Regions from separate parts of the Homo sapiens genome. Here regions 2 and 3 are each linked to region 1. Evidence: fine-mapped expression QTL. A gene starts in region 1. Each other region holds a variant in brackets. All regions are shown on one strand. Distances are from middle to middle. Region 1 holds the start of COTL1 (coactosin like F-actin binding protein 1). Region 2 overlaps COTL1 (coactosin like F-actin binding protein 1). Region 3 overlaps COTL1 (coactosin like F-actin binding protein 1).

The links. PIP is the estimated chance that this variant, and not a neighbour inherited with it, causes the effect.
Region 2: its variant is fine-mapped to the expression of COTL1 in whole blood (TOPMed, PIP above 0.99).
Region 3: its variant is fine-mapped to the expression of COTL1 in whole blood (TOPMed, PIP above 0.99). The same link has a PIP of 0.9 or more in blood mononuclear cells.

Annotation. Positions count from the first base shown.
Region 1 is chr16:84,614,299-84,622,298 of GRCh38, reverse strand. It overlaps COTL1 (coactosin like F-actin binding protein 1), which reads left to right and starts at 4,221. Exons shown (of 4, transcript NM_021149.5): 1 at 4,221-4,461; 2 at 4,716-4,798. The coding sequence starts at 4,385. RefSeq lists silencers at 3,963-4,322, 4,343-4,392 and an enhancer at 7,613-8,000.
Region 2 is chr16:84,590,152-84,598,417 of GRCh38, reverse strand. COTL1 (coactosin like F-actin binding protein 1) reads left to right here. Exons shown (of 4, transcript NM_021149.5): 3 at 8,156-8,266. Among named protein-coding and RNA genes, the nearest start is that of COTL1, 24 kb to the left of the region's middle. RefSeq lists enhancers at 1-381, 382-883, 4,227-4,526, 7,592-8,091. The variant G/A (reference allele first, on the strand shown) is at 3,826.
Region 3 is chr16:84,562,268-84,570,491 of GRCh38, reverse strand. It overlaps COTL1 (coactosin like F-actin binding protein 1), which reads left to right. Exons shown (of 4, transcript NM_021149.5): 4 at 3,537-4,896. The coding sequence ends at 3,647. Among named protein-coding and RNA genes, the nearest start is that of COTL1, 52 kb to the left of the region's middle. RefSeq lists an enhancer at 7,736-8,224. The variant T/C (reference allele first, on the strand shown) is at 3,827.

The DNA.
Region 1 (8,000 bases):
GAAAGAGAACAGCAATGAAAGGAGGACTGAAGTGGGGCTTCCCAGTTCCCTACACATTCATAGGATTCCTCCAGGAACGCTGAACCATGGAGACTGAGGATTGAATTCAGTATGGCAGCCACGTTTCTGGGTGGTAGTTTAGCATTCTGAACAGATAATACATTCACGTGGTCGAGAACTAAACTAAAACAAGAAGGTATGTAGTAACACCCACCACCCTCCTACCCCAATCCCTAACCCTTTTTGCCTGACTTTCTGCTTCACCTCCACCACAGGTACTGTTAGTTTTCTCTTGTGTTCTCTACCAGAAGTTTCAATGCCAATGCCAATATAAACAAATGCAGGCTGGGCGTGGTGGCTCACGCCTGTAATCCCAGCACTTTGAGAGGCCAAGGCGGGCGGATCACCTGAGATGAGGAGTTCGACACCAGCCTGACCAACGTGGTGAAACCCTGTCTCTATTAAAAATACAAAAATTAGCCGGGCGTGGTGACGTGCACTGTAGTCCCAGTTACTCAGGAGGCTGAAGCAGGAGAATCACTTGAACCCGCGAGGCAGAGATTGCAGTGAGCCGAGATCGCGCCACTGCACTCCAGCCTGAGTGACAGAGCGAGACTCCCTCTGAAAAAAACAAAACAAATACAATATTAACACCCACCCCATTTTACCCAAAAGGTAGTGTTGTTCTGAACACACTATTCAGTAGCTAGCTTTGCGTATTCATGATCTATCTTGTAGAATGTTCCATACCAGCATCTAGAGAGGGTCCTCATCCTTTCTTTCTTTTACAGCTTCATAGTCGTGCATGGTTCACCAGCGTTATTACCTATTCATCTAGCCCCTCACTGATGGGGACTCAGGTTAGCCCTCACCTTCTGCCTTAAAAGTAAAGCTCAATGAATAACCCTGGATATATTTTGCACACATACAAGTGTATCTATTATCTATAGCAGTGACTTTCAGCCCCAGTCGAACGTAAGCATCACTCAGGGGGCTTTACAAAAATCCCCATACGGGTGGCACACAACTCTAATCCCAGCACTTTGGAAGGCCAAGGCGGGCAGATCACTTGAGCTCAGGAGTTCCAGACCAGCCTGGGCAACATGGCAAAAACCTGTCTCTACAAAAAAATACAAAAATTAGCCAGGCGTGGTGGCACGTGCCTGTAGTCTCAGCTACTTGAGTGGCTGAGGTGGGAGGATCGCTTGAGCCTGGGAGGTCAAGGCTGCAGTGTGCTGAGATTGCACCACTGTACTCCAGCCTGGGTGACAGAGTTTTTTGAGGCAGGCAAGACCCTGCCTTTAAAAAAAAAAAAAAAAATGCCGAGTGCGGTGTCTCATGCCTGTAATCTCAGCACTTTGGGAGGCCGAGGCGGGCAGATCACGAGGTCAGGAGTTCAAGACCAGCCTGCCAACCCCATCTCTACTAAAAATACAAACATTAGCCAGGCGTGGTGGTACGCACCTGTAACCCCAGCTACTCGGGATGCAGAGGTTGCAGTAAGCCGAGATCACGCCATTGCACTCCAGCCTGGGCAACAGAGTGAGATTCCTTCTCAAAAAAAAAAAAAAAAATCTCCATACCCAGGGCATATCTCAGACCAATTATATCAGAATGTCTGGGTGTGGGATCAGGGGACCCTGGTGATTCCCATGTCCAGCCATGGCTGGGCACCACTGACCCTATAGGGTAAATGGATTGATCAAGGGCACACAGACTTGTAAATTTGCTAGACATTGCCAACTGGCCTCTACGGCGGCTCCATGGGGGTTGTGTCAATTCACACTCCCACCAGCAATGTACAAGAGGACCTGGGTCTTCCACAGCCTCCCCAGCAAAGTAGGCTTGTCAAAGTTTTTTATTTTTACCAAACTGCTAGTTTATTTATTTATTTTTTAAAGGTATCTCAATTTTGCTTTAATTTGCATTTCTCTTACTAGGAGTTGAGGTTGAGCATCTTTTTGCATGTTTAAGATCATTTAATCTGTCTGGTCATATTCTGTGCCCATTGTTCTTTTCATTTTCTTTTTTTTAAGTTTGACTTCTCTATATTTTAGCAAGACTAATTCTTTACTTGAGTTGCAAACACTTTTTACTGCTTTGTCTTTTTATGTTTACACTTTGCATGAGGTGGTATGGTATGTTTTTTTTTTTTTTTCCTGGATCACTTTTTATGTGTTTGAATGTATTCATCTTTTCAATGGCTTTTGGATTTGGATTTGGGTAACATGGTTTATGGTTAGAAGGAAGCTCCCCATATTTTCTTCTGGCACTTTTGTGATTTCCTTTTTTTGAGACAGAGTCTCGCTTTATCGCTCAAGCTCGAGTGCAATGGTGCGATCTCAGCTCACTGCAACCTCTGCCCCCCGCCCCGGGTTCAAGCGATTCTCCTGCCTCAGCCTCCCAAGTAGCTGGGATTACAGTCGTCTGCCACCACGCCTGGCTAATTTTTGTATTTTTAGTAGAGATGGGCTTTCCCCCTGTTATCCAGGCTGGTCTCGAACTCCTGAGCTTATGAGATCCTCCCACTTCAGCCTCCCAAAATGCTGGGATTACAGGAGTGATCCACTGCGACTGGTCTGATTTCCTTTATTTGTGTTTAAATTTTTGATCCTTTTGGAATTTTCCCTGATCAAAGGATCCACCTTTGTTCTTCTTTCTAATGGCCAATTGTCCCATTACCCTTGTCAAGGAGTAAGGTAGGAATGGCTTTGTGGGGTATGAAATGTGAATTTCTTTTTGTCTTATTTATAACAGCATCTGCCTCTACTCTTCTGAAACTGTGTTCCTGTCCACCCACCCATTCAACTACCCATTGATTGACTGATTGATTGATTCATTCAATTTCTCGTTTTTGTTTTTTTGCTTGTTGAGAATTCTAACATTAATTGGACATTGTCCCTGACCTTTTGGGTTTCTATTTAGGATTTGTTTTTATCACTTAATAACCAACAATGATGACATTTTATCGAATGTCTAGTATATTTGTTCCAAGTATCATTTCAATTACACTTAAAACAAAGCAGTGATGTCAGTTATACTATTTTTCCCATTTGAGGAGTCATTTAAAAGAGGTTTTGAGGCTTTCCAATGGCCCCCAGTTGGAAAGTGGCAGTACTGGATGCAATTCAAGAGCCCAGTCTTCAGGATCCTGCCTTTTTACCTACCTGGACGCTGTAACTGGTCTCTGTGGAATGGCTGGATGAGGGAATGAATGAATGAGTCAGTGAAGGAATGAGGAAGACAGAATGAGTCAGCTCGTGCTTTCAGAGGAGCCCAAAGGGAGAGGTTAAGATAGGAATGCAAATGACCAGAATCCAGAGTAAACGCGAGCCCACCAGCGTTTTGGAAGCAGTCCACTTTCTACCCCCTCCTATTTAAAATGCTTCATTCTTTCCAGTTCCTCCCCACCTAGAATCCATGGAACCAAACGCTGGGGTAGGGACAGTGGCCAGCCTGTCTCCTTGGGTTTGACGCATTACATCATCCACGTGGAGGTCCCCTGTGGAGCTCTGCAGCCCTGCAGCCTCAGGGGCAGGGGGGTGGGGAGAATGAGGAAGGGGGAGAGGGGGAATAGGAGGAGGGAGTAGGGGACAGGGAGGGAGGAGATGCCAGGAGGGTAAGTGGAGAAGAGGGAGGCGAAGCCGGGGGCAGCAGGGGAGGGGGTCAAGGAGGAGGAAAGAGGAGAGCTTGGGGAGAAGGAAATAGGGAGGATGGAGAAGTTTTGGGCTGGGATAGGCAAGAAGAGGGAGGAGGAGAGAGGAAGAAGAATAAAGGGGGAAGGGAGAAAGAGGGGGAGGGAAGGGAGGGGGAAGAGGTCAGGGAAGTGGGGGAAGCAAGCAGTGGGGGAAGAAGAGGAAGGAGGAGGGAGAGGAGGAAGGCGGGGTGGGAAAGGGGGTTGGGGTAGTGGGAGTTTCCAGGGAGGGGTCGGGAGGGGAGGAGGGGAAGTGAGAAGGAGAAGGAGAGAGAAGAGGGATGTTGGGGGAGAAGAGAGCGGGAGGGAGGAGGGAGAGTGAGAGGGAGGAGGCAAAGCCCCTACTCCAGCCCCCACCGCGGAGTTGCGCAAGCCTTCCGGTCTGGGATTGGCCGCCAGAGAATCAAGACGCTCCGCCCCCGCAGCCCGACGGCCAATGAAGAGGCGGGCCGCCGCCTGGGCGGCCAATGGGCGCGGGGGGGCGGGGCGGGCCACGGCCTGGGGTCCCCGCGCGCTCTCCGTCCGCAGTGGAAGCCGCCGCCGCGCTCGCAGCTTGCAGGCGCCGCGTAGCCGTCGCCACCGCCGCCAGCCCGTGCGCCCTCGGCGCGTACCCGCCGCGCTCCCATCCCCGCCGCCGGCCAGGGGCGCGCTCGGCCGCCCCGGACAGTGTCCCGCTGCGGCTCCGCGGCGATGGCCACCAAGATCGACAAAGAGGCTTGCCGGGCGGCGTACAACCTGGTGCGCGACGACGGCTCGGCCGTCATCTGGTAGGAACTTTTCATTCGTCTCCACGCCCCGCTCCCCGGGCTCGCGCGGGGCCTCGTGCACCGAGCCGGCCTCCAGGCGGGACGGATTCGGGCCTCCCGCGCTGTCTTCCTCGCCTTATTCCGGGACGGCGTGCCAGGCCCCCGCGGGCTTCTCCGTGGCCAGCGCGTCTGTTAGATTGTCCTCTGCAAGCGCCGCGTCGCGCGGCCACCAGCGCTGATGTGTGTGTGTGTTTTTTTCTTCTCCCAACCCAAAGGGTGACTTTTAAATATGACGGCTCCACCATCGTCCCCGGCGAGCAGGGAGCGGAGTACCAGCACTTCATCCAGCAGTGCACAGGTAGGGAGGCGCGCCTGCCGGGCGGATGCGCGGTCGTTGGGAGGTTGTCTGCACCCGGGGAGCCCCGGCCAGAGCGAACCCGGGAGGAACCGGTGGCCACATGGGGTGCCCCTGGCGCATGGCGTGGGAGGAACCCGGTGTGAGCGTTTTAAGGCCTCATAAAACCTTCTCCCCTCTGGACATCCGAAGCAACAGAAGTGACCCACCTGCCTCCGCCATCCTACAATGCCTTCTCCAGGCGGGGCAGCTCTTTTGCCCCCTGCGGTCCACTGGTTTTCTAAGGTCAACTCCTGTGTTTCCAAACTCCAGTGTCCATCCAGCTCTTCCCACTGTCCCCTTTGATCAGTCACTGAGCCCAAATACGAACAGGCTAGGGGGCTGCTTGGAAGGGAAAGAAACTCAGCCGCGCCCTCCTTTCTCCCGCTATCATTGTCTGCCCGTGTGCTGATTTTATGTGATTTTTAATTTGACGAGTAGAATCAGATGCAAAAGAGTACACACCATATGATTCCATTTAGAAATCCTAGACAAGGCGAAACTAATCTATGGTGTGAATGTCAGAATCGAGATTAGCTTTTGGGGCTAGATAGCCACTGATGGGGAGGGGCACACCACCCGGACTGCTGGGAGCTGAAAATGTCTCTGTAGACATTTGTTGATCTGGGAGGGGGTTATGCAGGTGTGTACCCGCGTGAAAAATCATCAGACTGTATACTTAAGATTTGTGTGCCTTAGGCACTTCCCTGTGGCTTGTGAACCATGAAAAGAAAGACCACGTGGCAGGCATCGCCATAAACCCTTCGGTAGTGGCAGAGGCTCTGTGATGTTGGTAATGGGACCTTTTAAAGAGATTGGAGAATGCGACTCCCTCCCATCTCTGGTCTTTAGTTGGAAGCAAGCTTTCGGACAACGGCAGCACAGCCCGGAGGTTACGGCGTGGACCCTGAGCCAGACGGTGTGGGTTACTTATTTATTTATTTATTTATTTATTTATTTTTGAGACAGAATCTTCCTCTTTTGCCCAGGCTGGAGTGCAGTGGTACAATCTCAGCTAACTGCAACCTCCGTCTCCCGGGTTCAAGAGATTCTCCTGCCTCAGCCTCCTGAGTAGCTGGGATTACAGGCGCCCACGACCACGCCTGGCTAATTTTTTGTAATTTTAGTAGAGATGGGGTTTTCACCATTTTGGCCAGGCTGGTCTCTAACTTCTGACCTTAGGTGATCTGCCCACCTTGGCCTCTCAAAGTGCTGGGATTACAGGCGTGAGCCACTGCGCCCGGCCGACGGTGTGGGTTCGAATCCCTGAACGGCTGCTTCCTGGCTGTGTGGTTTGGAACGAGTTCCTTAATCTCTGGGGGTCTTGGTTTCCTCACCTGCACTCTCACAGTGCTGTTGCGAGGATAAGTGAGTCAGTATGTATAAAATGCTCAGAACAGTGCCTGTACAAGCTACATGATTGTTTGCGAAATAAATAAAAAGTACAAAATTGTGCCAGGGATCATGTGGGTGTTTCTTTCCTTAACTGCTTCCATAATCAAATTATATTTTGCATTTAGTTCAATTCAAAGGGTATTTGTGGTGTGACTACTAGAGGATGGGTGATACTGAGAACCCGCGTGCGCGCACACACACACACACACACACACAAAACTAAAATTACTCCTTGAGCGCTGCCTGTAGACATTCATTCATTGCTTTTGTAAACAGTTGGCCTAAAATCGCAGCATAAAGCACTGCAACGATGTGGAGAGTTGGCAGGGCAGGATTTGAACCCAGGCCTCCGTCCCTCCGCCTCTGTAGTTGAATGCTTTTGCAAGTGGAGTAAGTGCAAACTCTTAACTTTCTCCCCTCCGGTCCGTGAACAGCCAGGAGAGTCAGCAGTATTTCTGCTTTGCCGGCTCTGAGGCTATGCTTTACAGACCAGCTTCCCTCCCTAAATTCAGCTTCTTTCCTCCCGCTGGTCACCCATCCCTCCCTTCCCCCATCAAACCATGTTCTGCCTCTGAAGCTACTGTTCTCTCCAGCAAGTAGAAGGGGATGAGGAAAAGAGCATCCATCCCATCAGGAGGCTCCTGGCAGGTGCTCCCAGGCCTCAGCCCACTCTGGTGTAGTGGGAGAACACTTCCCTCCTCCCACAGGCTTGTGGTTTTCTGCTCAGACCCACCTCCTGCCCCCCAGGGATGGGAGTGGGGAGTGGCGCGTGTCTGGCGAGGAAGCTAAAAATGCTTCCCTGCTGTGTGTGGATCCTCATGAATGGGCCATGGGAGCTTCAGCTGCAGTGCTTTCTTTCCCCAGCCATCTGTTGGACAAATGCATAGGAGAATTATGGTTGCCGTGTCTGCTCTTGTTCCTCTCGGAAACGCTTGTTCCTTCCTGTCGTCGTGTCCTCATAACCCAGGGACAATGGACTCAACACTGGCACTGGCTGGATAGCAGTCACCACGCTCGACGTGCCTTATCTTGGTCATACCTCAGAACAGCCTGGTGTGGCAGGTACTAAGGTTACTCCTATTCTACAGATGAGGAAACGGAGGCCCAGAGAGGTTAATAGGCTTCCTGCATTCACCCAGCTAGAAAGTGGCAGAGTTGGGACTTGAACCCAGGCAGGCTGGCTCGGGGCAGGTGCTCTTGGCTTCTGAGGAGGTTGTTTAGATTCTCACCTCTCGTGGGATTGCTTGCAGGTTGCAAATGACATGGTTGCCCACTTGTGACTCAGAGAGGGCTCTTTTGTGGCCCCAGTTCCCTGCCAGGTATCCTGACAGGCCTGAGAAGAAAGGTTCCACTCTGGTTCGGGCTTCCTGCTTCCAAACATCTCACAAGGTGGCCAGCAGACTTGGAAGGCCAGAAACAGCACCCAGTTTCTTCCTTATAACCTCAGGGTGTGGGCCTTCCTGGGGTCCTGCTCTTCTCCCAACCCTCCCCACTCTGGCACTCAGGCATTCTCTCTGAAACACCCCCTTCCCTGGCCCTCCCACCTCAGGCTACTGTCCCTTCTCCCCTTCCTCCCCCACGGCTTTCCAGAATGGGATCTCTCCACCCAGCCTCCCCTCCTCATTTCTTCCCAGCCTCCTGGCCTGGCCTTTCCTCCCTCAGAGCTGTTTTCCAGAGGGCCACGGGGTGTCTGTGCTGCCAGGCCAGTTCCCTCCCACCCCCGCACTCATCCTCCCAATCTTTCTGCCTGCTCTGGGTCTGCGCTGCTTCT
Region 2 (8,266 bases), 24 kb after region 1:
AGAGAACCTTGAAGAGATGACCTGGGCATTGGACTGAGGCTCCCTTTACCTACCTTCAGGGCCCTGCCTGGGGCTTCTAGGTCCCCACGGGTCCTTTGCAGGAGCCAAAGCTCCATCATTGGCTTCTGATGAGGCTTCATAGACCAGTGGAAGGAAGGGTCCGGCTCTTTTGAGAGTGAAGTTTTATTAACGTTAAACATAACAGCTGTGTCTTTTCATGAACAAGACTCTCTCTGGGTGGGAAGGGGAGGGCATCCATAGTCTTCAAATCAGGGACATCCAGCGTGCAATTGGCCTGGGCTCTGAGTGCATGACACCGACCAGAAGGAAACCACCGTCCTCAGGATGGGGCTCCTGACCTTGCTGTATCCTCAGTGACGGCAGCCCTGAGATGGGGCTCAGTGTGATGCTATGATATGCATCTGAATCCTCGTGGCTTATGGGCAAGCAGAGGAGCTAGAGGCAGCACAGGCAGAAAGGCCTCCTGGTACCCAGGGCTGATAGTCAGTAGCTCTCTTGCTAATGATGGCTGTTCCCTCTCTTGGGGTGTGGGATTTTGGGGAGGGAGCACTGGAGGGACTGTCCTGGTGGTCTTTGATGGGCGTGCTCAGGAACCACGGACTCTGCAGGAAGCTGCTTCATGCAGTCATTTGCTTAAAATAAAAGGCAGACAGGCAGCAAGGAGGGCGTGGGGGCTGAACTCTGAGCACTTCAGCTTTTCTGTCCTTGAGACCTTTGTCTCGTCCCCTCTCCCAACAGTGAGTTCTCACCATTTCCTCTTCTCCACCTCTTCCTCTAAGTCAGTGGGTCTCAAGGTTTGGCAGCCTCAGAATCACCCTGGGGCTCATTCGAGCACAGTTTCAGAGCTCCACTCCCAGCGTCTGGATCAGTAGGGCTGAGTGGAGCCTGAGTACCCACATTTCTAATAAGTTCCCGGGTGCTGTGGTGCTGCTGGTCCGAGGACCACACTTTGAGAACTGCTGCTGTGGACTTCAGCAGCTCTGCAGCGGGCAGGGAGAATTGTGTGGCTCATTCTCACTTCACCTCTCCAAGCCTCAGTTTCTTCATCTGTGAAATGGGACTGCGATCTGTGCTGCCCTCACAGAGGAGAAGAATCTGCAGTGTGCAGATTCTTAGAGTGGGGACTGGCCCCTCATAAGTGCTTAGTAGACTTGGGGCTCAGTTACCTCTCAGACCTTCACTGTCTTCCATCTCTCCTCAAGAAAGACTCACAGAAGGAGTGACTCCGTGACTGTGTGCCTCGGAGTGCCTCACTCTGAAACCCAGAGCTGGATGCAGAAAGTGGTCCCCATTCTACAGCTGGAACAGCTGAGGCTCAGAGCATGAAGCACCCTCATCTGATGTTCCATAGCTAGAAGGAAGCCGGCTGGGATGCGGCCCCTGCTAGGATGCGGCCCTGGCTGGGATGCGGCCCTGGCTGGCTGATCTCTGGAGTTTGTGCTCTTCTAAGTGCTCCAGATTGCCTTAGCGAACAGTTGTGTGTAAGGGGTGCGAGGTGCCAGGAAATGGCGAGAAACAGAGGGCAGACTCTGTCCACCTTGTTAAGGACAGAGCAGTGGAGAGTTGTGAGGGCAGGGGCTGGTGCGTCAGTGTTCTGTGGTGGTAGCTGAGATCTCCCAGGGAGAGAGTGTCAGGGGAAAGGAGAGGATGAGGTGGAACCCTGGGGAGTGTGTGTGTGGAGACAGAGGGGGTGGAAGAGCCGGGGAGAAAGTAGAAGGCGGGATCAGTGCTCTGAGAACCAAGATGGCACCATGCCCTGGGTGCCGTGGGAAGGGAGAGGTTCAAGGAGGGCAGAATTGATAATGGCGTGAAACGCCACCAGTGGGCATGGAGAAGATGCTGTTGGCTTTGGCAATTAGGAGGCCCCTGTGGACCCCTGAGGGCAGTTTCACTGGAGAGGTGTTGGGGGTCAAAAATCAGCAATGATTCCCATCAGCCAACCCTTCAGATCTCATTTCTTTTTCATGTAATCCTCCCAACCACTTTATGAGGTAAGTATTTGACCCATTTTGTGGATGAGGAAACTGAGGCTTAGAGACATTCAGGACTCTGGGCTGGGTCACAAGGCTAGTACATGTGGGGGTAAGTTTCTAAAGGATTCTGGAATTTGAACTTGCACCCTGGACATTGCAGAGAAGGTTAAGGGTATAGACCACTCCCCTGTGCTGAGGGCTCCAGCAGAAGGAGCTCATGGCATCTGTCTCTGGTACCTGTGTTTGGGTGAAGTCCTGGGTCCCCCGTCCCCCACTGGGGTTGCCCAGTCTCCCTGTCTCCTCTGCGTAGACCTGGACTCTCAGCTTCAGTTTGAAGAGATGGACCATTGGCCCTGTTGGGGACCAAGTGGCACAGTGAGGGTGATGGAAAGCCCAGGTACCAACCTTCTTCTGGGCAGTTTTGCCGTCTTAGTGCATACACACACACATATACACATACATGTATATATAACACACATACACATACACATACATGTATATATATAACACACACATACACATACATGTATATATAACACACATACACAAATACATGAATATATATACACACATATATACACCTGTACTCACAAATGTATGTATATACACACATATACAAACACACCTGTACACATATAGACACATATTATACACACAAATATATGTATATATACACATACACAAATATATACGCACACACATATCACACTAATATATACAGGACAGCGTTTCTCTGTGCCCTTTAGTAGATATGCCAGTGTTCCCGCGTACAGGAGTGACAATAGCCCGACATAGACGAGGGAGCCTAGGGCTCCCCACTGCTGATGTGGGGCTGTGACTGCCACTGGGGTTTGTGGACCCAATTTGTTCAGAAGAGGGAAAGTAACTAAACCAGGGATGAAGAACTAGCGATTCCCCTTCCACTGCCCAGTGTGAGGTCAAAAGGGACCGAGAACCTCCTTCAGGGTGAGCAGGGTTGGGGAGAGGCCTCCAGTCTGCCGGGCAGCTGCAAAAACGGTGCGCAGACCAACAGGTTTTCCGTCTCCGACTCAGCTGACCCGTCACTGTCGTGCCAGATCTCTAGCAGCAAACATTTGTAAGCATAACGTGACTCGGATTTTCAAAAACAGGCCTGTCAGCAATCTTGTTGACCAAACCATTGTCGGATAAGCACGCAGCAGTCACCTAGCAAACCACGTCCCTCTTTACCCCGCTCCCCCACGATCATTTAAATGACATCAGGCTGTGGTTCTGGAAGGTTCCCAGTGTCCTTGGGGTTGTGGGTGTAACTTACTTATTGTACATCTATCTTGTGCCAGGCCCTGGGCTGGTACTTGGGACACAGGGACAATGCCTGTGGTTCTTCAACAAGAATCTGTGACCCTCCGGGGGCAAAGGGTGTTGCCCAAGGTAGACCTGGGGAGGTCTGAAAGAGGGGAAGGGTGGATGTGGAGGGTTGGAGGTGCGCAGAGCATGGCCGGCATGTGGAGGCACTTGGCAGCCAGCAGAGAGGGCAGACGCTGGAAAAGCCATGGAGCTCCGCAGAGGAGCCAGCCAGAGCCGTGGGAGGGGGCGACACTGAGAAGAGAGAGAGGCTGGGAGAGCTGGCTCAGCCCGAAGCCTTGGCCATGGGCTGAACACATGGTTGAGGTCCCCAAAAACTGCGTTGGCCCAAAGCAGGGCTGGTAACTTACCTCCATGGAGGCTTGGGCCAGGGATGGGTAGTTTGGATCCAAGTCCGGGCTGACCAATGTGGAAATGGGAACCCGAGAGCGGTTACCATGGAAACACACTCACCGTGTTCTTTTGCTTGTGAAATGCAGTCGGAGGC[G/A]GATGTTCAGCCCCTCCTCCCCCTCAGGTCAAGGCTGCCATTTAATTAAGCACTTTGGTGTTGATGCTCTGACGACACTCCTCAAAACAGAGCCCTGGCTTCCCAGACACCACGGGGACTGCTGAGAAATGCTCTCGAGCTAAAGCGCTGCTCCCCCACACTCCAAGTCTGCACCAGCCGCCTGTGGCTGCGCACTTTGCACCTTACAAGTGAGGAACTGCCATCTCTTGCACCAGTCTCGTTTCCTGTGCGCTGTGGCCACCTGGCAGCCCCGCCCTGTGTCAGGAGCTTTAGGTTGGAGGTTCCACCCTGATGGGCTAGGTGGGTTTTGTAGCTTTCACTTTCAGTCATCATGGTCAACTGATAAGGGAGGCGTGAAATCACCCCATTTTGGAAGGATCCCAAATGTCTATCAACTGATGCACTGATAAGCAAAATGTGCTCTCTCCATGCAATGGAGTGCTGTTCAGCCATAAAAGGAATGAAGTGGTGACCCGCACATGCGGCAGCAGGGATGATCCTTGGAGATGTGACGCTGAGTGAAAGCCAGACCGCAGAGGCCACATAGCATATGAGTCCATTTCAATGAAATGTCCAGCACAGGCCAATCCATAGAGACAGAAAGTGGAAGAGTGGCTGCCAGGGCCTGGGGGAATGGGGTGGAGAATGGGGAGTGACTGTTCTTGAGGACGGGAGTTCTCGTTGGAGTGGTGAAATTAGATAGTAGCGATGATGGCACAACATTGTGAGTGTCCTTAAAGCCACTGAATTGGATGCTTTAAAGTGGTTAAAATGGCCGGGCGCGGTGGCTCACGCTTGTAATCCCAGCACTTTGGGAGGCCGAGGTGGGCGGATCACGAGGTCAGGAGATCAAGACCACGGTGAAACCCCGTCTCTACTAAAAATACAAAAAATTAGCCGGGCGTGGTGGCGGGCGCCTGTAGTCCCAGCTACTCGGGGGGCTGAGGCAGGAGAATGGTGTGAACCCGGGAGGCGGAGCTTGCAGTGAGCCGAGATCGCGCCACTGCACTCCAGCCTGGGCGACGGAGCGAGACTCCCTTCTCAAAAAAAAAAAAAGTGGTTAAAATGGTGAATTTTGTTATGTGACTTTTATCTCAATAAAGAAAAGAACGTGTTTTACAGGTGAGGCAGCCCAGGCTGATGTTTGGGAATTCAGGCACAGTCCCCGGGGCATGGGAGGTGGGGCCCTCACCCCTCGGGGTCTCCTGTGCCCTGGACTCCTCTGTCCTCACCTTCTCACATCCAGTTGGTCACCAGGCCCTGTGGATTCACCTGCGCAGTGTCCCTGAGACCATCCTTCCTTCTATCCCTGCTGCGTTGTTACCTACTGACCCCCAGATAGCCATGGCCTGGTGGGGCATTTCCCTGGAGAAAGGGGGCTGAGCACACACACCCAAGGTGTCCAGGCCCTTGGCTCTGGCCTCGTGTTGAGAGTCTGGCCACATCACGTGGCCTCTGAGCCTCCAGCCCTTATCAATGAAGGTGATTTGGATGTTGATGATGAAAGTGGCCATGACGTCTCTACCTCATCTGCCTCCCAGCGTTGTTACAAAGACCAAATGAGATGAAATAGAAGCATGTTTTGTAAACTGAAAAGTGGTGTGCCAATGTGAGTGGTGATGACGATCAGTTTCCTTTAAGAAGTAAGTGTTGTGGAGTCCCTGACCCTGGACTGCAGCTAGGATCACGCATTCATGGTCTGCTGAGAGCTGCGTGTTCCTTAGCTCCCGGGGACAAATGGATGACCCGTTAGACCACCCGGCTTCTTGTTGAAGGCGAACGTGCTGGTTACCCCCTCCGGTTTTGAGATAATCACCAGGAAGTGAGCTTGTCAGCTGCAGGCCAGTATCTCCTGTAGACAGGTGGTTTGTGTCCTTGGGTCTTGGTGCTAACCTACATGCTTCGTGCGGGACTCTGCAGGGACGTACTTAGATTCTAGGAAGAAACGCAGATTGATTTTTTTTTTTTTTTTTAACTCAGTGTGATCCTTTGACCAGTAGCATCAGCATCACTGGGAAGCTTCTTAGAAGCGTAGACCCCAGAGCTGTTTAATCAGAAGCTGCGTTTAAGATTTCCCCAGTGATTCAAATCCACACAATGTTTGAGAAGCAAACATATCGCTCTACGATATCATTAGGTGCCTGAGAAACCCTCACACCAGCAACTAAACGCCCTGAGAGAGCATCAGTTTATGCAAGTGGCTAATACAAGGTGAATGACTCCAAACCAGTGGCATCCCTATGTGCCAGCAACCACCACTTAGGAATTGTAATGAGATCTTGGTGATAATGGCAGTTAAAATATGAACTGTTTGTGAAGTAAGCTGAATAAGGATATGTGATCCCCTCAAGAGGCACAGAACTTTGTTGGAAAACACAAAAGGGGTCCCAATTAAATGGGGACACCAACGGTTTACAGCAGAGGTTCTCAACTGGGGGTGTTCTGCCCCCTTTGGAGGACATCTGCAATGTATGGAGGCATTTTTGTTTGTCATAACTGGTGGGGCCAGGTGAGGGGTGCTGCTCAGCACCCTGCAATTTACGGGATGGTTCCTACCAGAGAGAATGATCTGGCCCCAGATGCCAGTTGAGCTGATGTTGAACAATTTTGGTTTATCCTAGTGGGGTACACATGCACCCGCATGCACACGCACACACATGCAATGCACACATACACATGCACGCACATATTTTTATTTTATTTTATTTTATTTTATTTTATTTTATTTTATTTTATTTTATTTTATTTGAGACAGGGTCTCAGTTGGCCACCCAGGCTGGAGTACAGTGGCGTAATCTCTACTCAACTGCAGTCTCAACCTCCTGGGCTCAAGTGATCCTCCCACCTTAGCCTCCCTGGTAGCTGGGACTACAGGTGCCTGCCACCGTGCCCAGCTAATTTTTTGGTTTTTTTTTTTTTTTTTTTTTTTTTTTTTTTAGAGAGGTGATTTCTCCATGTTGCCCAGGTTGGTCTCAAGCTCTTGGGCTGAAGTGATCCTCCCACCTTTGCCTCCCAAAGTGCTGGGATTACAGGGGTGAGCCACCATACCTGGCCAATACACACATCACTTTAAAAATTCAAAAAATCAGGCTGGGCGCGGTGGCTCACGCCTGTAATCCCAGCACTTTGGGAGGCTGAGGCGGGTGGAATACAAGGTCAGGAGATCAAGATTCATCCTGGCTAACACAGTGAAACCCCATCTCTACTAAAAATACAAAAAATTAGCCAGGTGTGGTGGTGGGCGCCTGTAGTCCCAGCTACTCGGGAGGCTGAGGCAGGAGAATGGTGTGAACCCTAGAGGCCAAGCTTGCAGTGAGTCGAGATCGCGCCACTGCACTTCAGCCTGGGCGACAGAGCGAGACTCTGTCTCAAAAAAAAAAAAAAAAATTCCAGAATATCAAATGATATTTTGATAATACAGAGCAGTGGAGGGTGGGGGAACTTAGCATAGTGGATTGTGAAACAAATTTTAAAGTCATGATAATAAAAACAGTGTGGCATTGAAATAAAACTTAATGTGGATCAATGGAACAAAATAGCCCTCAAAGCCATTTTAATAAAAATGACTATATAAGATAGAACAAGCATAACACAGCCAATGGAAATGTGTTCAGAATTCATTGTTGACCTAATTGCCCTAGTCATAAGTGAAATATCCTCGGAGCCATATCCCGGGCCAAATTAAGAGCCATTTTCTTTGTTTCCTCTTCATACCCAGCACCCCCCTTGCCCCTCCTGTCTCTCTACAGTGTAGAGTCTCATTCCAAACTGCAAAGATTGAGGCAAAAAGAGTTGATGAATTTCTGGTCTACAAAGAGGATGAATTTCTGGTCCCTAAATAAGATCCATAATTTGAGCCTTTTTAAATTTTTATTTTTAAATTTTTTTTGGCTGGGCCCTGGCACTGCTGGCGGCACCCACATCTGTGCAATGGGCCCACCCAGACTTTGAGCCTTGATTGTAGGAAGGCTGTAGGCGTTGCAGCCAGAAAGGCCTGGGTTTAAATCCCAGCATGACCTTGAATTCCCTCACAACCTTGAAAGTGCCATGTGACTTCTCTGAATCTCCATTTCCCATCTGTGAAATGGGCATGAAGCCTGCAGCACTGTTGCCAGGATTCAGGGGAGTGTGACAAGGGCAGCGGATGAGTGCTTCCCTCCTGTCCTCTGCACATGGTGCTCCCAGGGAACTGCACCGGTCTCCTGCTGTGCTGCTCCAGGCGCACTCGTGGCTCACAGCCTCTCCCCAGGGACATGACATGGGGGTGTTTTAACGCAGCACCATGTTCTCTTTTCGCTTTTGGCCACAGATGACGTCCGGTTGTTTGCCTTCGTGCGCTTCACCACCGGGGATGCCATGAGCAAGAGGTCCAAGTTTGCCCTCATCACGTGGATCGGTGAGAACGTCAGCGGGCTGCAGC
Region 3 (8,224 bases), 52 kb after region 1:
TTTTTTTTGTAGTTTGAAACATAGCATTTTTAAAGATAATTTTGTTCATTTACATTTATTGTTATGTTTTACTAGATCTGCTGTCTGTTTTGCTTGTTTTTGTTTCATTATAATTTGATTTCCTAAGTACTTGTGGTTTTAGGTTGACCTGTGCCTAGCTCCATGTATCTTTCATTTGAGATTTCTTAGACCTTATCAAACTTATTTTTCTTTTTTTGAGATGGAATCTCGCTCTGTTGCCAGGCTGGAGTGCAGTGGCGCCATCTTGGCTCACTGCCATTTCTGCCTCCCAGGTTCAAGCCATTCTCCTGCCTTAGCCTCCTGAGTAGCTGGGATTACAGGCTCGCGCCACTACACCCAGCTGATTTTTATATTTTTAGTAGATTAGGGTTTTCACCGTGTTGGCCAGGCTGGTCTCGATCTCCTGACCTCATGATCTGCTCTCCTCAGCCTCCCAAAGTGCTGGGATTACAGGCATGAGCCACCATCCATGGCTCTCAAACTTATTTTTCTTAATCTAAATCTTCTAATAGCTAACCGACTGGAACTTCAAGTGTTCTTATTTCTGTAGATTGCCATATATAGCTATCACAAAGCAGAGGAACTTTGGACTTTTCTTCTATAAGCATCTTAAGCTGTTGGCTTCCTCCTTCTGAAAGCTCTCTGCCCCTCCCTCATGCCGTGGGGCTCAGGGTTGAGAAATACATTAATTCTCAATTCTCCTTTCTGGCTCTTACATCCAACTTGTGTTCTTTCATTGCACGGATCACATACACTTAGTAACACACTGTAGTGGGGTGGGAACAGAAAGGATCTCAAGGGTGTTCTGTCATTCTGGGCAAATCTCTCCAAGCCCAGCCCATGAGTCTTATCTTCAAAAAGTAAAATAAAATAAAGTTAATATACTGAGGGCTGAACGAGAACATGAGTGAGGCTGTTCCTGGCACACATCAGCTGCTTGATAAAAATTAACCTCCCGTTCTCCACTTTGTTAGTGTTCTCAGTGGCTTTGCGCGCCAAATGCATTGTCTTTTTATTGTAAAGCTTGACTTCGGGATGCTCCTGGGCTCATCATTCTTGGCAATATGGCGACTTTTTTGTTTTTTATTTTTTAATTGTGGTGGAATTCATTTAACATAAAATGAACCTTTTTATGTTTATTTATTTATTTTGAGACAGATCTCACCCTGTCGCCCAGGCTGGAGTGCAGTGGCGCGATCTTGGCTCACTGCAACGTCCGCCTCCCGGGTTCAAGCGATTCTCCTGCCTCAGCCTCCCCAGTAGCTGGGATTGCAGGCGCCCGCCACCACGCCCGGCTGATTTTTGTAGTTTTAGTAGAGATGGGGTTCCGCCATGTTGGCCAGGCTGGTCTCGAACTCCTGACCTCAGGTGATCTGCCTGCCTCGGCCTCCAAAGTGCTGGGATGACGGGCGTGAGCCACCGCACCTGGCCTGAACCATTTTAAAGTGTACAATTCAGTGGCTTTCAGAACATTCACAGTGTTGTGCAAGCCCTACCTCTGTCTGGTTCCAAAACTTTTTCATCACCCCAAAAGGAGATGGTGGCTCTTTCAAGACGCCAGCTTTGGCATCAACTGGACCTTCTGGTTGTCTGACTTCGGACAAGCATTGTAATTTCCAGCCTTTGTTTCCTCACCTTTAAAATGGAAATAATGTTGATCACCTTACGGGCCTTTTTAAAAAGAACTTGATTGAGGTATGATGTATGTACCTCAAAATCAAGTCATCCTAAGTGTACTTTTTCAGTACTTTTTCGTGAATTTGTGGAGTTGTGCACCCATTACCACAATCCCAATTTTAGAACGTCTCTATCATTTCCTGTTCCCATCTCCAGCTCTGTGTAACCACGAGTCTGCTTTCTGTCTGTATGGGTTTGCCTTTTTTAGACATTTATACCAATGGCAGCTGACAGTACATGGTCTTCATGCCTGGCTTCTTTCACTCAGCATCCTGTTTCCGAGGTTCATCCATGTAGTTGCGTGTGGCAGCGCTTCATTCCTCTCTGTGGCTGAGGAATATTCCATTGTGTGGACGGACCGTGTTTTGATAATCCACTCCTCTGTTGATGGACATAGGGGTTGCTTCCACCTTCCATGATTCATATTTACTACTGTGTGTCATTCTCAGTACTGTGGCACTGTGCTGGTACACATAAGTGCTTAATAATTGTGGTTAGCCGGGCGTGGTGGCTCACGCCTGTAGTGCCAACACCTTGGGAGGCCAAGCTGGGCGGATCACTTAAGGCCAGGAGTTTGAGACCAGCCTGGCCAATGTGGCGAAACCCTGCTTCTACTAAAAATACAAAAAATAGCTGGGTGTGGTGGCAGACGCCTGTAGTTCGAGCTACTTGGGAGGCTGAGACATGAGAATGGCTTGAACCCTGGGGGCAGAGGTTGCTGTGAGCCAAGATTGCGCCACTGCACTCCAGCCTGGGCAACAGGCTTTTCTCTCAAGAAAAAGAAAAATGGTGGTCATTGTTTATGTTATTTCCTTATGGGCTTTTTTTTTTAATGTGGATGATTTTCTTACCTTTAGACGTGTTATTTGTGGTTTTGATAGCTTTTTTTTGTCAAGCTGTCCGTCATCGTTCTGAAATTTTGTTTGTTAAAGTCTTATGATCCACATATGGCAGTAACTGTGTATCATCATGGCTTAAGGGTGTCTGATAAGCCAGGTCACCTGGTTCCCTCATTCATGCCACAAGCGTTTACTGAGTGCATCATGGGTGCCTGCGGGTTCTATGGGTGAAACCTGTGTACTGCAAGAGGAAAGACTGACTGCATCCATTTTGCTGAGCCCTGTAGCCCCACAGCCTGGCGTGGTATTTGTTGAAAGAAGGCAGAGCCTCTACCCTCGTGTAACTCAGTGCGGGTGGAGAGCCCATGGCAGACCCAGGACTGGAGGCTCCTGCGTCATTAGGAACATTGGTGGCTGAAGCTTGCTTGTCCCAGCTGGCGAGAGCCAATTACGCCTGTCTCCTTCCACCTCCACGTATGGTGACATCACTTTGATAGCTTGACGTCAGCCACTGGGGGACTATTTACATCATGGATATGGGCAAAAGACACCAATCTGAGCTTTTGTCCTTTTCTTTTTTTTGGAGTGCCTGCACACCCGTGAGCCTTTCCAACCTCGTAACCTATTATTTTCCTGACGAGATAGTTTTTTACAGATGAGAAAGTTGAGGCACAGAGAATTGAAGGGACTTGGCCAAGGTAACAGCCCAAATTCAAGCCCCAGCTTCCTCGGGCCATCCCCACGGACATGGGAAGACGCAGCATCAGATCTGCCCCACTCCCTCCTCCCAGTCAGGTTTTTTCTGCCAGATGACTCTGCTGTTCAATTTCCATTGACTCTGCTGCTGAATTTCCATTGACTGACTCTGCTGCTGAATTTCCATTTCCATCTCTCATCAGGGTTTTCAGTGCTTTGCTTCCCAGTGTGTTGCCTGAGCCACCCTCACATCCTGTGCCTTCCTTCTTAATAGGAACGCTGTGTTTTCCTTTGTTCTTGCAGAATTTCGCTAAGGAGTTTGTGATCAGTGATCGGAAGGAGCTGGAGGAAGATTTCATCAAGAGCGAGCTGAAGAAGGCGGGGGGAGCCAATTACGACGCCCAGACGGAGTAACCCCAGCCCCCGCCACACCACCCCTTGCCAAAGTCATCTGCCTGCTCCCCGGGGGAGAGGACCGCCGGCCTCAGCTACTAGCCCACCAGCCCACCAGGGAGAAAAGAAGCCATGAGAGGCAGCGCCCGCCACCCTGTGTCCACAGCCCCCACCTTCCCGCTTCCCTTAGAACCCTGCCG[T/C]GTCCTATCTCATGACGCTCATGGAACCTCTTTCTTTGATCTTCTTTTTCTTTTCTCCCCCTCTTTTTTGTTCTAAAGAAAAGTCATTTTGATGCAAGGTCCTGCCTGCCATCAGATCCGAGGTGCCTCCTGCAGTGACCCCTTTTCCTGGCATTTCTCTTCCACGCGACGAGGTCTGCCTAGTGAGATCTGCATGACCTCACGTTGCTTTCCAGAGCCCGGGCCTATTTTGCCATCTCAGTTTTCCTGGACCCTGCTTCCTGTGTACCACTGAGGGGCAGCTGGGCCAGGAGCTGTGCCCGGTGCCTGCAGCCTTCATAAGCACACACGTCCATTCCCTACTAAGGCCCAGACCTCCTGGTATCTGCCCCGGGCTCCCTCATCCCACCTCCATCCGGAGTTGCCTAAGATGCATGTCCAGCATAGGCAGGATTGCTCGGTGGTGAGAAGGTTAGGTCCGGCTCAGACTGAATAAGAAGAGATAAAATTTGCCTTAAAACTTACCTGGCAGTGGCTTTGCTGCACGGTCTGAAACCACCTGTTCCCACCCTCTTGACCGAAATTTCCTTGTGACACAGAGAAGGGCAAAGGTCTGAGCCCAGAGTTGACGGAGGGAGTATTTCAGGGTTCACTTCAGGGGCTCCCAAAGCGACAAGATCGTTAGGGAGAGAGGCCCAGGGTGGGGACTGGGAATTTAAGGAGAGCTGGGAACGGATCCCTTAGGTTCAGGAAGCTTCTGTGTAAGCTGCGAGGATGGCTTGGGCCGAAGGGTTGCTCTGCCCGCCGCGCTAGCTGTGAGCTGAGCAAAGCCCTGGGCTCACAGCACCCCAAAAGCCTGTGGCTTCAGTCCTGCGTCTGCACCACACATTCAAAAGGATCGTTTTGTTTTGTTTTTAAAGAAAGGTGAGATTGGCTTGGTTCTTCATGAGCACATTTGATATAGCTCTTTTTCTGTTTTTCCTTGCTCATTTCGTTTTGGGGAAGAAATCTGTACTGTATTGGGATTGTAAAGAACATCTCTGCACTCAGACAGTTTACAGAAATAAATGTTTTTTTTGTTTTTCAGAAAACAGTTTGGTTTCTGATTTGTCCTACAAAGTTCTTTTTTTTTTTTTGCTGTAATAACAGAGGCAGTCATCATCGCCTTCAGATTTAATAGGTGTTTGCGGAGCTGCTGAGGCGGGGCACATTCACATTCAATTGCTTATTTAATTCTTAGCAACCATAAGAAACAGGTGCTGCTTTTGTCCCCATTTCCTGAAATCTGAGGCTCAGAGGGATTCATTCACCCGAGGTCACCCAGATAGAAAGTGGCAGAGCTGGGATTTTTTTTTTTTTTTTTTTTGGTGACAGAGTCTCACTCTGTGGCCCAGGCTGGAGTGCAGTGGGGAGATCTCAGCTCACTGCAACCTCCATCTCCCAGATTCAAGAGATTCTCCTGCTTCAGCCTCCATAGTAGCTGGGATTACAGGTACCCGTCACCATGCCTGGCTAATTATTGTATTTTTAGTAGAGATGGAGTTTCGCCATGTTGGCCAGGCTGGTCTCGAGCTCCTGACCTCAGGTGATCTGCCCGTCTTGGCCTCCCAAAGTGCTGGGATTACAGGCGTGAGCCACCACACCCGGCCAGAGCTGGGATTTGAACTGAGATCTCTCAAAGTCCCTGGTGCTGTGGCTTGTGAGGGGAGCGGGGAGGCCACACATTTGGGATAGCGATGGGACCACAGGTAGTGATTCTTTTTGAGTGGCCAGAACTCCCCTGTCTGCCTGTTTAGGAAAAGCCAAGAGAAAGCATCTTCCTCGTTGGCCATGACATCCTTTCTGAGGTTATCCTACAGCTGAGAAACTGGACTTCCAGCACACCAGACCCTGTGGGAGCCCAGAATCAGGGCAGAGGAGTTTCAGACACAGACAGCGGGGCTTGGAGGAGCTGAGTGTGGGGCAGGGAGAGTGCGGAGAGAGGGCAGAAGCCGAAATCAGGGCAGGAAGGAATCCTACAAGGTATGGGCAAGGCCCTGATCATGCTGCCCAGGGTGGCAGGGGGCCATAGGTCACCACCCTCCCCAGCCCCAGCCCGCCCCAGCCACGTCTGGGTTCTAATTTCTGCTCATCTGTTCACAGCTGTGTGGATTTAGGCAATTTAGTTAACCTCTCAGCCTCGGTTTCCTCATCTGCAAAATAGACAACATTGCCTACGTGTAGAAAGGCTTAAGGAGCAGCGAGGATTGTGCAGGCAAAGGGCGCCTGTCAGGGTGCAGTGTTCTTATCTCACGCCTGCCACTGGTCTTGTTAGCTCTGTGGGCTTCCGTCTTTTCCTATACCCAGAGCTGAGGGAGCTAAACTAGGTCCGTTCCCAGTGCACGGGTTTTAGCTCCGTTCAGAACATGGGCTCAGTAGGTGCATGACTTCATGTCACTCATGCACTGCGTCCCGCAAGCCTTCCATCCTCTCCTGGAATCTCCTGGTCGGCCAAGCCCTCCTCCAGGCCCACTGCCCACCCCACTCCCTGCCCCAAAGCAGACTAGAAAGAATGAGCAGCTCTCAAATCTGCCCCTAGGCCTGTGGTCTCATCCCTGGCTGTGAATTAGGATCACTGGGAGCTTTGAAAATACAGATGAGGCCTCTATCCCAGACTAGTGAGTGAAATTGGAGTGCCAGACTCAACGAACGCCAGCTTTTCCTTTCCAGACAGCTGCAGAAGTGGCCCTGATCCCGGGCAGGAGGGGCTGGAAGGGAGGCCTGCCTCTCCCTCTGTGGGTTCCTCTCGTGAGTGGAATCTTGTTTGTTTTCATTTTGTTAGTTTTGAGACAGGGTCTCACTCTGCCACCCAGGCTGGAGTGCAGCGGCACAATCACAGCTCACTGCAGTCTCCATCTCCTGGGCTCAATCGATCCTTCTGCCTCAGCCTCCTGAGTAGCTGGGACTACAGGTGTGCACCACCATGCCCAGCTAAGTTTTGTATTTTTTTAGATAGGAGGTCTCCCTATGCTGCCCAGGCTGGTCTCAAACTCCTGGACTTGAGCGATCCTCCCACCTCAACCTCTCAGAGTGTAGGGCTTACAGGCGTGAGCCACTGCACCCAGCCATGACTGGAATCTTGAAGGGCAAGTGCAGACAGGTTTATTGAGCACCTACTATGTGCCAGGCACTGGCCTAGGTATGGGGATTTGATGATGAACAAACTCAGACAGCCCCCACCCTCAAGGAGGCTGAGTCTAGCAGGGATGATGGATATTAATCAGCTTGTCCCACCAGAGGGTGTGTGTTTCCAGATGAGGATAAGTCTCCTTCAGAGAAAAAAGCCCAGGTTCCATGAGAGCTCACAAGGGCCCTGGATCTGGCTAGGGTATGGGGGAGGGCTTCCCTAAGGAGGTGGTACCTGAGCTGAGAACGCGGGGAAAGGAGGGGAGGAACAGGAAAGCGTGGACATAAGCTCCATGGAATGTTTGCCCACGGGTGAGCCAGGGTCTGAAGCAGCTTGTTCGTGTGTCAAGGAGCTTGGCTTTAACTTGAAAACTGCAGCTTGGGCCTTTGCTGGGGATCCCAAGGGATCATGAGACCACTGAAGGCAGAGAAACCTTGCCTTTTTTTTTTTTTTCTGAGACAGAGTCTTGCTCGGTCACCCAGGCTGGAGTGCAATGGCGCTATGTCGGCCCACTGCAACCTCCGCCTCCTGGGTTGCAGCGATTCTCCTGCCTCAGCCTCCCCAGTAGCTGGGGTTACAGGTGCCCGCCACCATGCCCAGCGAATTTTTGTGTTTTTAGTAGAGACAGGGTTTCACCATGTTGGCCAGGCTGGTGTCTAACTCCTGACCTTGTGATCCACCCACCTCGGCCTCCCAAAGTGCTGGGATTACAGGCGTGAACCACCACACTCAGCCCTATTTCTCAGCTGTGCCAGGTGTTTATACCCCAGAGGTTATCTGGGGCTGGTGAGGGAGTCCAGGCCCAGGGTGCGGCCCTGGCTGGGGGAAAGTTCCCGTGCAGCTCCTGCCCTGAGGATGGGCTGCCCTCGTTGAAATCTTTCTGTTCCCCATTTCTTAGTGAACCATAAAAGAGAGAAACAAGAAGCAGAAAATGTGCATAGTCCAAGTGATGTAGAAAGAATTTTTTGAAAGAACCAGAAACGGCCGCGGCCACCAGATGACTCAGTAAGAGACAGTAGGCAGCACAGCCGTGGCTCAGAGCTCAGCCTTGGGCTCAGGTTTGAGTCCGAGGTCCGTGGTTCACCCGCCAGATGACCTTGGCCAGTAGTGTCACCTCTCTGAGCCTCAGTTTCCCCCTCTAAAGATCACAGCACTTCCCTCATGCATTTATTACAAGGACTAAGTGAGCTGAGCCTTGCCAGGTGCTTAGCGTGATGTGATCTGTTAGATTCCGATGGGGACTCTGCACAGTC